Linked DNA regions of Homo sapiens. The protein of the gene in region 1 purifies or fractionates together with the protein of each later gene. This does not show direct contact. Each region holds a gene or a part of one and is shown in the gene's direction. Other genes may lie near its edges.

What was found. The genes of interacting proteins can lie anywhere in the genome.
Region 2: the proteins of CLNS1A (region 1) and GAR1 purify together in Homo sapiens (affinity purification with mass spectrometry; 5 studies listed by BioGRID and IntAct, with this or other methods). This does not show direct contact.

The regions. Positions count from the first base shown.
Region 1 is NC_000011.10:77,620,783-77,627,802, reverse strand, and holds part of CLNS1A (methylosome subunit pICln), read left to right. Parts: intron 1-1,984; coding exon 1,985-2,086; intron 2,087-2,732; coding exon 2,733-2,840; intron 2,841-5,129; coding exon 5,130-5,303; intron 5,304-7,020. UniProt on the Homo sapiens protein: Involved in both the assembly of spliceosomal snRNPs and the methylation of Sm proteins.
Region 2 is NC_000004.12:109,811,225-109,818,761, forward strand, and holds the start of GAR1 (H/ACA ribonucleoprotein complex subunit 1), read left to right. Parts: upstream 1-4,537; 5' UTR 4,538-4,580; exon of another isoform or gene 4,581-4,781; intron 4,782-4,928; 5' UTR 4,929-4,940; coding exon 4,941-5,154; intron 5,155-6,711; coding exon 6,712-6,866; intron 6,867-7,537. UniProt on the Homo sapiens protein: Required for ribosome biogenesis and telomere maintenance. Part of the H/ACA small nucleolar ribonucleoprotein (H/ACA snoRNP) complex, which catalyzes pseudouridylation of rRNA.

The DNA.
Region 1 (7,020 bases):
CAAGTCATTTGCATTTCTCTGAGCCTGAATTTCATCCAAAAAGTTAAGGGAGTATATTAGTCTCTTGTTCCCAAACTCAAGACTAATGGATACACATTAGAAATACATGGGAAGCTTGTTTAAAATGCAAATGCTCTGAGTCCTAAACTAGGAAAAAGCAGTTCAGTAGGTTTTAGGGTGTGTGTTTTAAATATGTGCTCTATAATCATACAGAATCTATATGATTGGTTGTAATTGATGTGATTATGATTAATCCTTTCTTAGTAAGATATGCAGGATTTCCTATCTTACTAGAAATTAGTATCTTTCTGGGTCACATTTATTTCACTAATTCTCCAGTTCCTTTTTTTTTTTTCTTTTTTTTTGAGATGGAGTCTTGCTCTGTCGCCAGGCTGGAGTGCAGTGATGCGATCTTGACTCACTGCAACCTCTGCCTCCTGGGTTCAAGCGATTCTTCTGCCTCAGCCTCCCGAGTAGCTGGGACTACAGGCTCCCGCCACCACGCCCCGCTAATTTTTTTTTTTTTGTATTTTAGTAGAGTTGGGGTTTCACTGTGTTGGCCAGGATGCTCTCCATCTCCTGACCTCATGATCCACCCACCTCAGCCTCCCAAAGGGCTGGGATTACAGGCGTTAGCCACCTCGCTTGGCCCTTTAGTTCTTTTTATCTTAAACTCCTCTCATAAATTACATGTGCTTGAATCATATTTTCCCAGCCTTTGTTCCTTGCATTCTGATTCTCTAAGCTCTAAGTTTTTTTTTTTTCTCTTTGGCATACCTCTGTAAGTCTCTTTAAAAATGACCATCAGGGCTGGGCGCGGTGGCTCACACCTGTAATCCCAGCACTTTGGGAGGCTGAGGCGGGCGGATCACGAGGTCAGGAGATCAAGACCATTCTGGCTAACACGGTGAAACCCCGTCTTTACTAAAAAAAATACAAAAAAATTAGCCAGGTGTGGTGGCGGGCGCCTGTAGTCCCAGCTACTCAGGAGGCTGAGGCAGGAGAATGGGGTGAACCCAAGAGGCAGAGCTTGCAGTGAGCCGAGATGGCACCACTGCAGTCCAGCCTGGGCGACAGAGCAAGACTCCGTCTCAAAAAAAAAAAAATGACCATCAGGACCGGGCATAGTGGCTCACATCTGTAACCCCAGCATTTTTTTTTTTTGTGATGGAGTCTCACCCTGTCACCTAGGCTGGAGTGCGATGCTGTGATCTTGGCTCACTGCAACCTCCACCTCCCAGGTTCAAATGATTCTCCTGCCTCAACCTCCTGAGTAGCTGGGATTATAGGCGCCTGCCACCACGCCTTGCTAATTTTTGTATTTTTAGTAGAGACGGGGTTTCACCATATTGGCCAGGCTGGACTCAAACTCCTGACCTCGTGATCCGCCCACCTCGGCCTCCCAAAGTGCTGGGATTACAGGCGTGAGCCACCGTGCCCAGCCACAATCCCAGCATTTTGAATGGCCAAGACAGGAGGATCACTTGAGCCCAGGAGTTTCAGACCAGCCTGGGCAACATCGTAAGACCCCATCTCAAAAAAACAAAAATTAGCAGGGTGTGGTGGCAAGTGCCTGTAGTCCCAGCTGCTTAGTAGGCTGAGGTGGGAGGATCGCTTGGGCCTGAGAGGGCAAGGGTGTCCAGTCTGGGCAACAAAACAAGTCCCAGTCTCAGAAAAAAAAGTTGACCCTTAGCTCATTGTTGATGAGATTAGATTACCTTAAAAATAACCTTAAAAATTCATTCCCGGTGAGGCGCGGAGGGAGCACTTTGGGAGGCCAAGGTGCGTGGATCTCGAGGTCAGGAGATCGAGGCAAGGCTTTTCTAGGATGCTCACTGTATAATCAGAATTTTTCAACCATAATTGGAAATAAATTTGTCAACCATAATTGGAAATTAAAATTGAATTGCAATATTCAGATTTTCAATATGCTTCATTTTTTTAAAGTCAAATAATGACATTAAAAGGGTATTTTATTTTCTAGAAGAATCAAAAGAACCTGTTGCTGATGAAGAAGAGGAAGACAGTGATGATGATGTTGAACCTATTACTGAATTTAGATTTGTGCCTAGTGATAAATCAGCGTGTGAGTGTTCTACAGTATTGATTCTTCCCCTTTTACATACCAAGCATTCCCAATTGACACACACACACATACACACACACACACACCTCTCACCTTTACCACCATTACCTCCATTCTATTGCTTTTTCTTTATTTTAGCATTGGTAATATCATTAAGGACCAAATACCTATTAATATCAAAGGTTGTGAATGTAGTGAGAATATTGTAGACACTCTGTCATCTGGGTATATTTTGTGAGTGGACTCTGGTTAGTTTTACTGATTGGTGCTGTTGACTTAATCTCACCTGCTGGATGGCAGAGGAGTTATGGCAGTTTTAAAGTGGAAGATCTCAGGATGGCTGGAAAGAGCCCTATCAGCTGAGAGCAGTCTTCACCCTTCACCCTGATGCCAGCAGTCTTACCAGGACTCTGACCCTTTTTTCTTGGAAAATCCCACGAGCCATGAAGAGATTGCAATGATCTCTCATAATGAACTCTTATTATTTTATGACTTGTCTTTTGCTTCAACCGCTTTCAAGATTGATCTTACAATTTGGCAGATTTTGTAAATACTGTGGCGTTTTGTGTACCCATTAAATTTATTTGCACTGATGGTTACTTTTATTACAAAAAAAGATTGGTTACAGTTTAATTTCCTTGTTCAGTGGAGGCAATGTTCACTGCAATGTGCGAATGCCAGGCCTTGCATCCAGATCCTGAGGATGAGGATTCAGATGACTACGATGGAGAAGAATATGATGTGGAAGCACATGGTTAGTGAAATGGATTTTAAAGTGGGTTTTTTGTTTGTTTAGTGTTTCATTTTAAGCATTTATTTGTATTAAGGGTAGAGGATTATAGTTCTTTATATGACTGTAAAGTATGCAGTATGGTAAAATTATTATTATTATTTTTGAGATGGAGTTTTCGCTTTTGTTGCCCAGGCTGGAGTGCAATGGCGTGGTCTCGGCTCACTGCAACCTCTGCCTCCTAGGTTCAAGCGATTCTCCTGCCTCAGCCTTCCAAGTAGCTGGGATTACAGGCATGCGCCACCACGCCAGGCTAATTTTGTATTTTTAGTAGAGATGGGGTTTCTCCATGTTGGTCAGGCTGGTCTTGAACTCCCGACCTCAGGTGATCCGCCTGCCTCGGCCTCCCAAAGTGCTGGGATTACAGGTGTGAGCCACTGTGCCTGGCTGGTAAGATTATTATTAAAATAGAATGACACGGTAGAACACTTTATGCCAAAGCCCTTTGCAACAGACAAATTTTTGAGTGTAAGAAATAGAGATTGTTATGGGGAAGAATGGGTAAGTAGAGCATATGGGAGGAAAGAAAATGGTAGATAGGGAAGTGGATGGTCAGGAAAGTCTTTTAAGCTGAGGCAGCTGCCCCCAGAGAACAAGCTTCTCTCTCTACACCTTGAGAACCTGGATCATTTATATTGTTTTATTATTACTATTATTATTTTGCAACAGGGTCTCACTCTGATGCCCAGGCTGGTGTGCAGTGGTGTGATTTCTGCTCACTGCAACCTCTGCCTGCTGGACTCAAATGATTCTCCCAGCTCAGCCTCTTGAGTACCTGGGACTACAGGCTTGCGCCACCATGCCTGGCTAATTTTTGTGTATTTTTTATAAAGACTGGGCTTTGCCATATTGCCCAAGCTGGTCTCCAACTCCTGGGCCCAAGCAATCCTCTGGCCTTGGCCTCCCAGAATGCTGGGTTACAGGCATGAGCCACCGGGCCTGGCCTGCATCTTTATTTAACATGTTCCTTCAAACAGCTCACTGCCAAGGTCATTTCTTTTTCTCAGAACCATACTTCATTTATTTAAGAGCCCTTTCCGATTGCCTCCCCCAGACCAGAATGCAGTCACTAGCGTGATAAGAGTCTTTATAGCTTGAAGTACCTGCTGTTCTCTTTTCTTTTCCCTACTGGTCTTATGTACACCAATCTGGGTATCCAAAGCCCTTTCCTTCATATGTACCCACTTCCTGGCCTGAGATAAACACATTTCTGGGATCCGCCATCACATACCTAAATATATCCAAATATATCCTTATCTTTCTGAGATTTTTGAGTGATTTAAAATTTTTCATCCTTTTTGTATGTTCCAGAATTTCTAATTTTTTTTTTTTTTTTAAACAGGGTCTAACTCTGTTGCCCAGGCTGGAATACAGTGGTACCATTCTCCACCCACTGCAGCCTTGAACTACTGGACCAAAGCTGTCCCACCCCAGTCTCCCGATTAGCTGAGACTACAGGTGCACACCACGTGCCCGGCTAATTAAAAAAAACATTTTTTTGGAGAGATGAAGTCTTACTATGTTGTCCAGGCTGATCTTGAACTCCTGGGCTCAAGCAGTCCTCCCAGCTCGGCCTCTCAAAGTGCTGGGATTACAAACGTCAGCCACTGCACCTGGCCCTGATTTTTTTTAAGAAAGGAGCATGTTTTTTAATCAGAAAACATCTTCATTTTACAAATTAATACCAAATTAATTTGTGCTCACTTGTAAAATTCCCACCTCAGGATAATGTAGGACTCTCTGACCTTAGGAACACACTTTTTTTTTCTAGTCCCTGGACTTGGGATTCTTTGGGAATTGCTGTTTACTGGCTTGTTATCTCTTTTAATAACCCTAGAGAGTAGGTACATCTTCTTTGTATTTCTGTCTTCAGCAGTAGCCTATATGTGTGTATAAATAAATGTTCAAAAGTATCTTCCTGGAAGCCTATTTGGACAGTATATTATCTTCAGCAGATTCTTTTTTTTTTTTTTTTTTCCAAGACAAGGTCTTGCTCGGTTGCCCAGGCTGGAGTACAATGGCGTGATCTCGGTTCACTGCAACCTCCACCTCTGTGGTTCAAGCGATTCTCCTGCCTCAGCCTCCTGAGTAGCTGGGACAACAGGCGCGTGCCACCACGCCTGGCTAATTTTTGTATTTTTAGTAGAGATAGGGTTTCACCATGTTGGCCAGGCTGGCGGCAGATATATTATTGATTCCATTTTGTTTTTTCTAATTGTTGTATTTAAACTTTAAAGTTTTCTGTTTGTTTAGAACAAGGACAGGGGGACATCCCTACATTTTACACCTATGAAGAAGGATTATCCCATCTAACAGCAGAAGGCCAAGCCACACTGGAGAGATTAGAAGGAATGCTTTCTCAGTCTGTGAGCAGCCAGTATAATATGGCTGGGGTCAGGACAGAAGATTCAATAAGAGATTATGAAGGTGAGTGTCCTTTTGCAGTGTGAACAGTCAGATGAGCACTTGGGCAATAAGTTATGGATAGTCAATAGAAGTTCTTTTAATAACTAAGAGAAAGAATTGACTCTCTATAGTATAGGAAGCAGATACAGAATTACATAGTATAGGAATGCTTATGTCATTTGTTTTTAGTGATTTTTTTTCCTCATTACCAAAAAAGTCTTTGTTCATAGTCAAAAAAATTTTTTTAATGTGCGCAAGAAAGTAGAAGTGAAAAAGAAACAAGTGTAATTCTAACTGAGAGATATCCACTATTAATTTACTGTTGCATCTGTGTATTAGTTTGCTAGGGCTATTATAACAAAGTGTCATACAGGCTGGGTGGCTCAAACAATAGAATTTTATTGTCTCATAGTTTTGGAGGCTAGAAGTCCACGATAGGTTATCTCTGAGGGCTGTCAATTCAGGCATCTCTTCAGGTATACACACACCCACCAAAGCAAGAGAGAGATTTTAAGAAATTGGCCCACGTGACTGAAGGCTGGCAAGTCCAAAATCTGCATGGTAAGCCGGCAGACTGGAGACCCAGAGAAGAGTTTATGTTGCATTCTGCTGCCTCAGAAGTTCTGCTGGCAGAATTTCTTCTTGCTCAGGGGAGGTGAGTCTTTTTCCTATTGAGGCCTCCAGCTGATTAAATGAGACCCACCACACTATGCAGGGTAATCTCCTTCACCCAATTTTCACCAGTTTACAAGGCTAATCTCATCTAAAAAATAACCTCCACAGAAACATCTAGAATAATGTTTGACCAACTATCTGGACACCATTGCCTAGCCAAGTTGATGCATAAATTTAACTATCACACCCTTCTTTTTTTCTTAAGATGGAGTTTCGCTCTTGTTGCCGAGGCTGGAGTGCAATGGCACGATCTTGGCTCACTACAACCTCCGCCTCCTGGGTTCAAGCGATTCTCCTGCCTCAGCCTCCTGAATAGCTGGGGTACTGGCGCCTGCCACCGCTCCCAGCTAATTTTTGTATTTTTAGTAGAGACAAGGTTCCACCATGTTGGCTTAAAGTATGCACAGGCAAAGAAGAGGTAGAAAAAAATAAATATAATTCTGAGATGCATTTACTATTAATTTTCTGTTGCATATCCTTTCAGTCTTGTGTCCTTTTGTGTGTGTATATACACTGATTGTGTGTGTGTGTGTGTGTGTGTGTGTGTGTGTTTGAGACAGAGTCTTGCTCTGTCGTCCAGGCCGGAGTACAATAACGTGACCTCGGCTTACTGCAACCTCTGCCTCCCAGGTTCAAGTGATTCTCCCACCTCAGCCTCCTGAGTAGCAGGGATTACCCACTACTATCGTGCCCAGCTAATTTTTGTATTTTTGTAGAGACGGGGTTTCACCATGTTGGCCAGGCTGGTCTCGAACTCCTGACCTCAGGTGATCCGCCCGCCTCAGCCTCCCAAAGTATTGGGATTACAGGCGTGAGCCACTGCACCCGGCCATGATTCTGTCTTATTTATTTATTTATTTATTTAAGACGGAGTCTCACTCTGTTGCCCAGGCTGGAGTGCAGTGGCATGATCTTGGCTTACTTCAACCTCCACCTCCTGGGTTTAAGAGATTCTTCTGCCTCAGCCTCCTGAGTAGTTGGGATTACAGGCATGTGCCACCATGCCTGGCTAATTTTTGTATTTTTAGTAGAGGCGGGGTTTCACCATGTTGGCCAGGCTGGT
Region 2 (7,537 bases), on another chromosome or scaffold:
GGGCAGGGAAGGAACAGGTCATAATGGAATGTCTTAAGGTTGGTCAATCAGTTAAGACAGGAGCAGGCTGTTTCTCTTCCTTTGTAGTTTTCAGTTGACTCAGGCCATCTGGATGTATACACGCAGGCTTGGGCTCAGAGGCCTGACACATGGAGCTTGCAGGTTAAAAGTGAATTGCATTTGAAGATATCATTTTTTAAAAAAATTTCCTTGTTTAGTTTGCTTGTTTTATACTTGATTAGCATCTGTGTTTTACAAACATGACTTATAGTCCAATGTGGTGATTTTTGAAGATGAACTGGGAGATGGAAGAGAATTCTAAGTCTTAATAATTCTGATAAAGTTAGTAATGAAGAATCACAACTTATAAATGAAGCAATGGCTCCAGCAAAATTGAAAAGACACTTAACTGCAAACCATAGTAAAGGAGCAGATAATTTTATATGGCCTTTGGAAACCCAGAGTAAAGAATGTATTTATTTTTTTAAGTCACCTTCAGTAAAAAGGCCCAGAAAGCAAGTTATTTAGCAGAAGAACCTTTTGACTAGAAAAGGAAAGAGCCCCACAATTGATGGGACCTCACAATTTCAGCATGTATAATTACAGAGAGTCAGACGCCAGCATATGATGTAATGAGAAACTAAAACGGTTTCACTTTCAAAGTTTGATAAATTGATGTGATTGATGACATGTCACATAATGCTGCATAGCATCAAAAGAACCTAACAACTTCTCATCCAGGTTGATGAATCATCAGATTTCAACAACAAATGTCATAAAGTAGCATTTGCAAGATTTATAAATTACGGCAAAATTCAAGAAAATTTTTCTTCTATTAAACACTGCTGCAAAGAAGCAAAGGTAAAGATATATTTACTGTCTTCATATTGGAAAAAGAAGGTACCTCTTGGAAGAACTGTGTCAGTATCTATTTATGGTACCCTATCAACGATTGGTTCCCTCAGAGATTTCAATTCTCATTAAAATCCTGACATATTCACAACTCATTGCTTTCTTCCCAGAGAGTGCTGATGTCAGAAAGTTTTGGAGCAGAAATGAAAAAAGTTCTAGATGATGCTATGAAGATGACTTATCAAACATAATGCAATTCACTTCTAAAAATTTTTTTTTTTAAACTATGTGAAAACCTGGACAAGGCCCATATAAATCTCCTTCCACATGCGTAAATCTTATGGCTTAGCAGATCATTTTGGGGGAATCCAGCTGGCATGTCATGTCAGTACTCAAGCACCCTGTAAAGAGGTCTGTATGGCAAGGAACTGGGGCTGGCAGTAGGCAGCATCAGCTTGCTAGGCATGTCAGTGAGCTCCCTCAGAAAAGGATCCTCCAGCCCTAGTCAAGTCTTCAGTGGACTGCAGCCCCAGGTGATACCTTGACTGCAACCTTATGAGAGACCCTGGGTCAAAATCATCCAGCTAAGCTGCTCCTTAATTTCTGACCTACAGAAATTACACAAAATAATGTTTATTGACACTACGGATTGGAGTGAGAGAAGGTAATACAGATTCTGCTCCTTAACAGGACGCTTGACCTAGAAAGTGAATCACAGAAATACATTCAAGAAAACAGTAGCCCAGATTTTACCAAATTCTTTGAAGATAAAGAATGGCTGTGGAAACCAGCATTTTTGTTTTTTTTTGCATTGCTGTAAAGAAATGCCCAAGGCTAGGTAATTTATAAAGAAAGAGGTTTAATTGGCTTATGGTTCTGGAGGCTTTACAGGAAGCATGGTGCTGGCATCAGTTTCTGGTGAGGTCTCTAGAAGCTTACAATCATGGCGGAAGGTGATGGGGAGCCAGCATGTCACATGGCAAGAGTGGGAGCAAGAGAGAAATAGAAGAGGTCACAGACTCTTAAAACAACCACATCTCAAGTGAACTGAGTGAAAACTCACTTATCACCAAGGGGATGGTGCTAAGCCATTCATGAGAATTCTGCCCCCATGATCCAATCACCTCCCACGAGGTCCCATCTACGACACTGGGAATCAAATTTCAGCATGAGATTTGGAGGGAACAAACATCCAAACCATATCACCTACTTAACAGACATTTTCATCACATGAACTAGTTGAACAAGGATCTTCAGGCCCTGGAGAAAATCGTTTTACTTCGAGTGACAAGATTTTTGGGTTTAAATAAATATTGAATCTTTGGAAAAGTTATATTGCAAAAAGGGATCTTGAAATGTTTCCACTGCTGCTTGGACTTTAGAATAAGGAAGTCTCAAGTCTTACCGAAAACCACCGTGGGGAATTGCAGAACAAAACCGAACAATATTTTCCTTCCCCTGGAACACAACTGTATAACTACGTGAGGAACCCTTTCCTTGAATCTTCTCAGCCTGAGCACCTGGCTTTGAGAAAAGAGGAAGAACTTTGTGAATGTATGACTGTAGATATAAGATGAAATGTACTTATTTGTGTTTCTCCTTCTTTTTTTTTTTTTTTTTTTTTTTGAGACGGAGTCTTGCTCTGTTGCCCAGGCTGGAATGCAGTGGCGCAATCTTGGCTCACTGCAATCTCCGCCTCCCGGGTTCAAGCGATTCTCCTGCCTCAGCCTCCCAAATAGCTAGGATTACAGGCGCCCGCCACCACGCCCGGCTAAGTTTTGTATTTTTAGTAGAGACAGGGTTTCACCATGTTGGCCAGGCTGGTCTTGAACTCCTGACCACAGGTGATCTGCCTGCCTCAGCCTCCCAAAATGCTGGGATTACAGGCGTCAGCCACAGCACCTGGCCTGATCTGTGCTTCTACAAGTTTTGGATTTCTGAGAAAGAAGAGCAGCTTGACATTTTTAAGAAAGTAATAAACATTTTGACATACTTTAAAACTTCTTGTTCAAGCAAGCTTTTTCTCACTAAGTTTTAAGAGTAAAGACAAAAATCATCTCATTTCAGTTGAAAATGCAATCTGTGTGTGACAATCTCAAGTTCAATTCAGAATTGAGCAAATACACAGCAAAAGATAAGCAAAGGTTTCATACTAAATAGGTAATTTTCATTTTTTGTTTCAAAAATAATACACTTATATAGGCCCATAAAAAGACCAACATTCGTTAAAATCAAATTGCAGCATTTACTAAACTAAAAGAAAAAGAACAAGTAAAGTTTCCTCTCTCACTTATTTTGTTTTTTGTTTGTTTTGAGACCAAGCCTTGCTCTGTCGTCCAGGCTGGAGTGCAGTGGCGTGATCTCGGCTCACGGCAACCTCCGCCTCCCGGGTTCAAGCGATTCTCCTGCCTCAGCCTCCCGAGTAGCTGCGATTACAGGCGTGTGCCACCATGCCCGGCTGATTTTTGTATTTTTAGTAGAGAAGGGGTTTCACCGTATTGGCCAGGCTGGTCTCGAACTCCTGATCTCAAGTGATCCATCTGCCTTGGCCTCCCAAAGTGCTGGGATTACAGGCGTGAGCCACCACGCCCCGCCTACAAAGGTATTTTAAAATCCCATTTACAATAACCCTCTGAATTAGATAGGTACCAAGTTCCACCCTCTTCTAAACACGAGATCAAATATCAAGGTAAGGTCTCAGAGGGTTTGGGTGTAAAAGACTCCAACCAAATTTAATAAATGGGAAGTCATTACCTTTATTTGTGAGAGAAGCTTTGGAGAATGTGGGGGAAGCTGATGTCAAATATAAAGGGCTTAAAGAGAGAAGAGGGAGAGGAGCTTTCAGCACAGTCCAGTTCACAGCCCGTCGGTGCTCAAAACATACTTGAATACCTGGTACAAAAGATAAAAATGATGGTTTGGTTTTCTATAAGACAGCATAGTTTCTTTAAAATTACACACACACATGCATTGCTTTTCTTCCTTTAATTAGTTGAGACCATAGGACAAAAGAAGAGGCATAGTTGAGCGCGTAATGGTGCGAAAATCAAAAGGTTGGGAAGAAACAAGAAACTCAGATAAACGCTTCCGTCGGCTGTGACAGGTTCTGAGGCGCCCAGATCTACTGGACATAGCGCGGCTCAGAAGCCTCAGAGACCTGTCCGCACAGTTCCTGAAGTTAGCAACAAATTAGTGAGTGCTGTTGCGGGCCATTTTGCAGCCAGAGAAGCAAATGCGCAAATGCGCCCAGCCAGTCAGCACGGACTTCAAGAACCAACTTCATTCCTTGCAAGGTGCTTTAGTTCTGGCCGTTAGGGCGGCAACCAAACAGAAACCTGCCCCGCCTCTGGGAGAGAAGGCGGATCCCTAACGCCAGCTATCTCCAAGAGCAACATTGCCGCAGCACTTCCGGGACGTCGTGCTGCAAAGGACGCCGCTGTTATACGTCACTTCCACGGCTCAGCGTCAGGCAAGTTGGCCTCTCTGTTGTAAATTAGTGGTTAAGGTTATCTATTATTGCCACTTTTCCAGCGCTAAAGGCTGTTTTGGAACCAGTGTTGCTTGTTCCGCGGGTGATTGGCTTTTTTTTTTGGCAAACCAGTTATTCAAGTTTCTGGTCTTTAAAAAACTCTGTGGCGGTACGGTAACCGAGGAGGTTCCAGCGCGGCGGAAGTACCCCGCGGGTGGGTGTGTGCGCAAGGCCAGGGCCAGAGGGGCACGTGGCGCCGGTGAGTGGCCGTAGAAGCCGGAGGATTTGAAAATGCTGGACGTGGAACCCAACTGCCGGAGGGAGGGAGGAAGGAAGGGGATGCGGTGCGAAGACCTTGCTGTCTGTAGGGGGAGGAGATACTAATCATGGGGCGGCAAGGGTGGTGTGTGGTCGGTCGGCGCTCACGAGACCATGGAGAAGTAAACTCTTCACCCATCAGGTTGGTGGTCACTGGCTGTCTGACCGTGGGTGAGGTGACAGGGCTGCTTTTGTCTCCTTTATGGTGTTCTCACCGCAGCTCCGAGGGGTTGGAGTATACTCAGAGGCTACAGTGATCAGAAGACATAGGTCGTTTTTTTTTCATCAGGGAGGAGAGAGAATGTCTTTTCGAGGCGGAGGTCGTGGAGGCTTTAATCGAGGTGGTGGAGGTGGCGGCTTCAACCGAGGTGGCAGCAGCAACCACTTCCGAGGTGGAGGCGGCGGTGGAGGCGGCGGCAATTTCAGAGGCGGCGGCAGGGGAGGATTTGGACGAGGGGGTGGCCGCGGAGGCTTTAACAAAGGCCAAGACCAAGGACCTCCAGAACGTGTAGTCTGTATGCAGTCTTCAGTATTTAGCTTATTTGAAGGAGTAGGTGTGGGTTGGGGGTTTGTGTTGTTAGGCAGCAAGTTTGGGATACACAAGCCTGTGTGGAGAATGTAGCATGTAAGGGTGGAGTGGGGAGATCAAGAAAGCTGAGGGATACTTAGAATGCATCTTGGAGGTGGAACTTGAGGGTTGACAGGAAGATATTAAATAGGTAATCGTGAGTACTTATGCCTAATTCCCCGATTTTACAGATGAGAAAACTATGATTTAGAGTTAAGTTTTTTTGCTGGGGTCATAAGGTTAGTGATAAGTGATCAATTAGTGATATAGCTGAAATACAGGCTGGGTGCGGTGGCTCACGCCTGTAATCCCAACACTTTGGGAAGCTAAGACGGGAGGATCTTTTGAAGCCGGGAGTTAGAGACCAGCCTGGATAATAAAGCAGGAGACCCTGTCTGTACAGAAAAGAAAGAAATACAAAGCCAAGTATTCTGACTCCAAAGCCCATGCTTTCTGTTACTACTCAAAAGTAGATAAGTGAGAAAACAATTTGCTTGAGAGGGAAACTGCCAGAGAGGAAATCTAGAAAAACACCTATTTAGGGTAGTTTTAGAGTAATTAACAATGAGATGGGAATGGAAGTCACAGAAAGTGAAACTTACTACATTAAAGAGGAGAGAGGGTGAGTAGTGTCTAACTAAGAATGGCTTGGATGAGTATGCAGGATGGTTTGAAAGGAGCAGTTTCTAGAATAAAAGGTCCCAGCCCACAAGCTGTTGTACCAGTCCATACATGAGACCTTGAGAGCCTGAATCAGGATGGTGACAGTGAGGAAAAAAAAGGAAGGGTTAGATAGGAGAGAGATTTCAAAGGAAACAAAATCGGTAGAACTTAGCTAATGCTGATAATAAAGGGTTCCAGGTTTTGAGCTTGGGTGATAGGAATGAAGACTTGGTTTTGCAGGAATGTGGTATTTTAGTTTGGGGTGACAGTCTAGTTAGAAATAAAGGTAGTTATTTTGAGATTCCAGATGTCCTTGAAAACAATGAATCATTGTTAAAGAGGTGGTAGTGGGAATGGAAAAGTTCTAAGGCAAGAGAAAAAAAAAAAGAATGAAGGCTGATTCTGTTAGGCATTGAAGAAAAGGGAGAACCAAGAGAATGAAGCAGAGTTTTGAATCAGATAATAAGTTGTAATAACATAACTGTTACAGGTTGAATGGTGTCAGTGTGCCAGGCACTGTTCTAAGCACTTGACATTTGTTATTCCATTGAGTGCTTACATTACTGTATATTAGGTATAGCTATACATTATATGTTATTAGTGCATACTAAAAATGAGACACTGAATTAGAGAGAGGGTGGGTAACTTCTCCTAGGTCAAATAGCTAGTGTGTTGTGGAGTTGGTATACCAGCCCAGGAAGTCCTAAGACTGTGGTCTTCTGCCTCAGAGGAGAGCAGTTATGGTGAAGTCCCAGGTAGCCAAAAAGAAAGCTTCCAGAAGCAGTTGGTCAGTATCGTTTGAAATAGTTCTATGTTTTAACATTTTCTTGTCCTGTTTCAGTATTAGGAGAGTTCCTGCATCCCTGTGAAGATGACATAGTTTGTAAATGTACCACAGATGAAAATAAGGTGCCTTATTTCAATGCTCCTGTTTACTTAGAAAACAAAGAACAAATTGGAAAAGTGGATGAAATATTTGGACAACTCAGAGATTTTGTATCCTTTTTCATTGGAAGGCCTGATAATATTCAAAGGTTGCTATTTGCATTTTTCTGAGGAGGCAGTTAAGTATAAATTAAAGTTGTTGCTTCATTAAATTAGACAGGATTGCTACAGATTGGACCATGAAGGAGAATCAAGGGGAGAATGTATTCATCCATAGATATTAAAATGACAGACCCTAGAACGGTGACTTTTTTTTTGGAAAATTCTATTAATGATGGCCATTTGGATAAGTACTACAGGATTAAGTTGGCTGATTTGGATGTAGTGGTGCCACTGGAAATGTAGAATTAGAAGTTGTTTGGTGCCCCCACTACTCTGGAAACTCCTTCCTTCCTTTCTCTCTCTCTCTTTTTCTCTTTCTCTCTTTCTTTCTTTCTCTCTCTTTCTCTCTCTCTTTCTTTCTCTCTCTTGCTCTTTCCCTGCCTTCTTCCCTCCCTCCCTTCCTCCCTTCCTTCCTTTCTTTTTTCCTTTTTTTTTTTTTTTTTGACAGAGACTCACTCTGTTGCCCAGGGTGGAGTGCAGTGGCACGATCTCATCTCACTACAACCTCCGCCTCCTGGGTTCGAGCAATTCTCGTGCCTCAGCCTTTCAAGTAGCTGAGATTACAGGTGAGCGCCACCATGCCCGGCTGATTTTTGTATTTTTGGTGGAGGTGGGGTTTC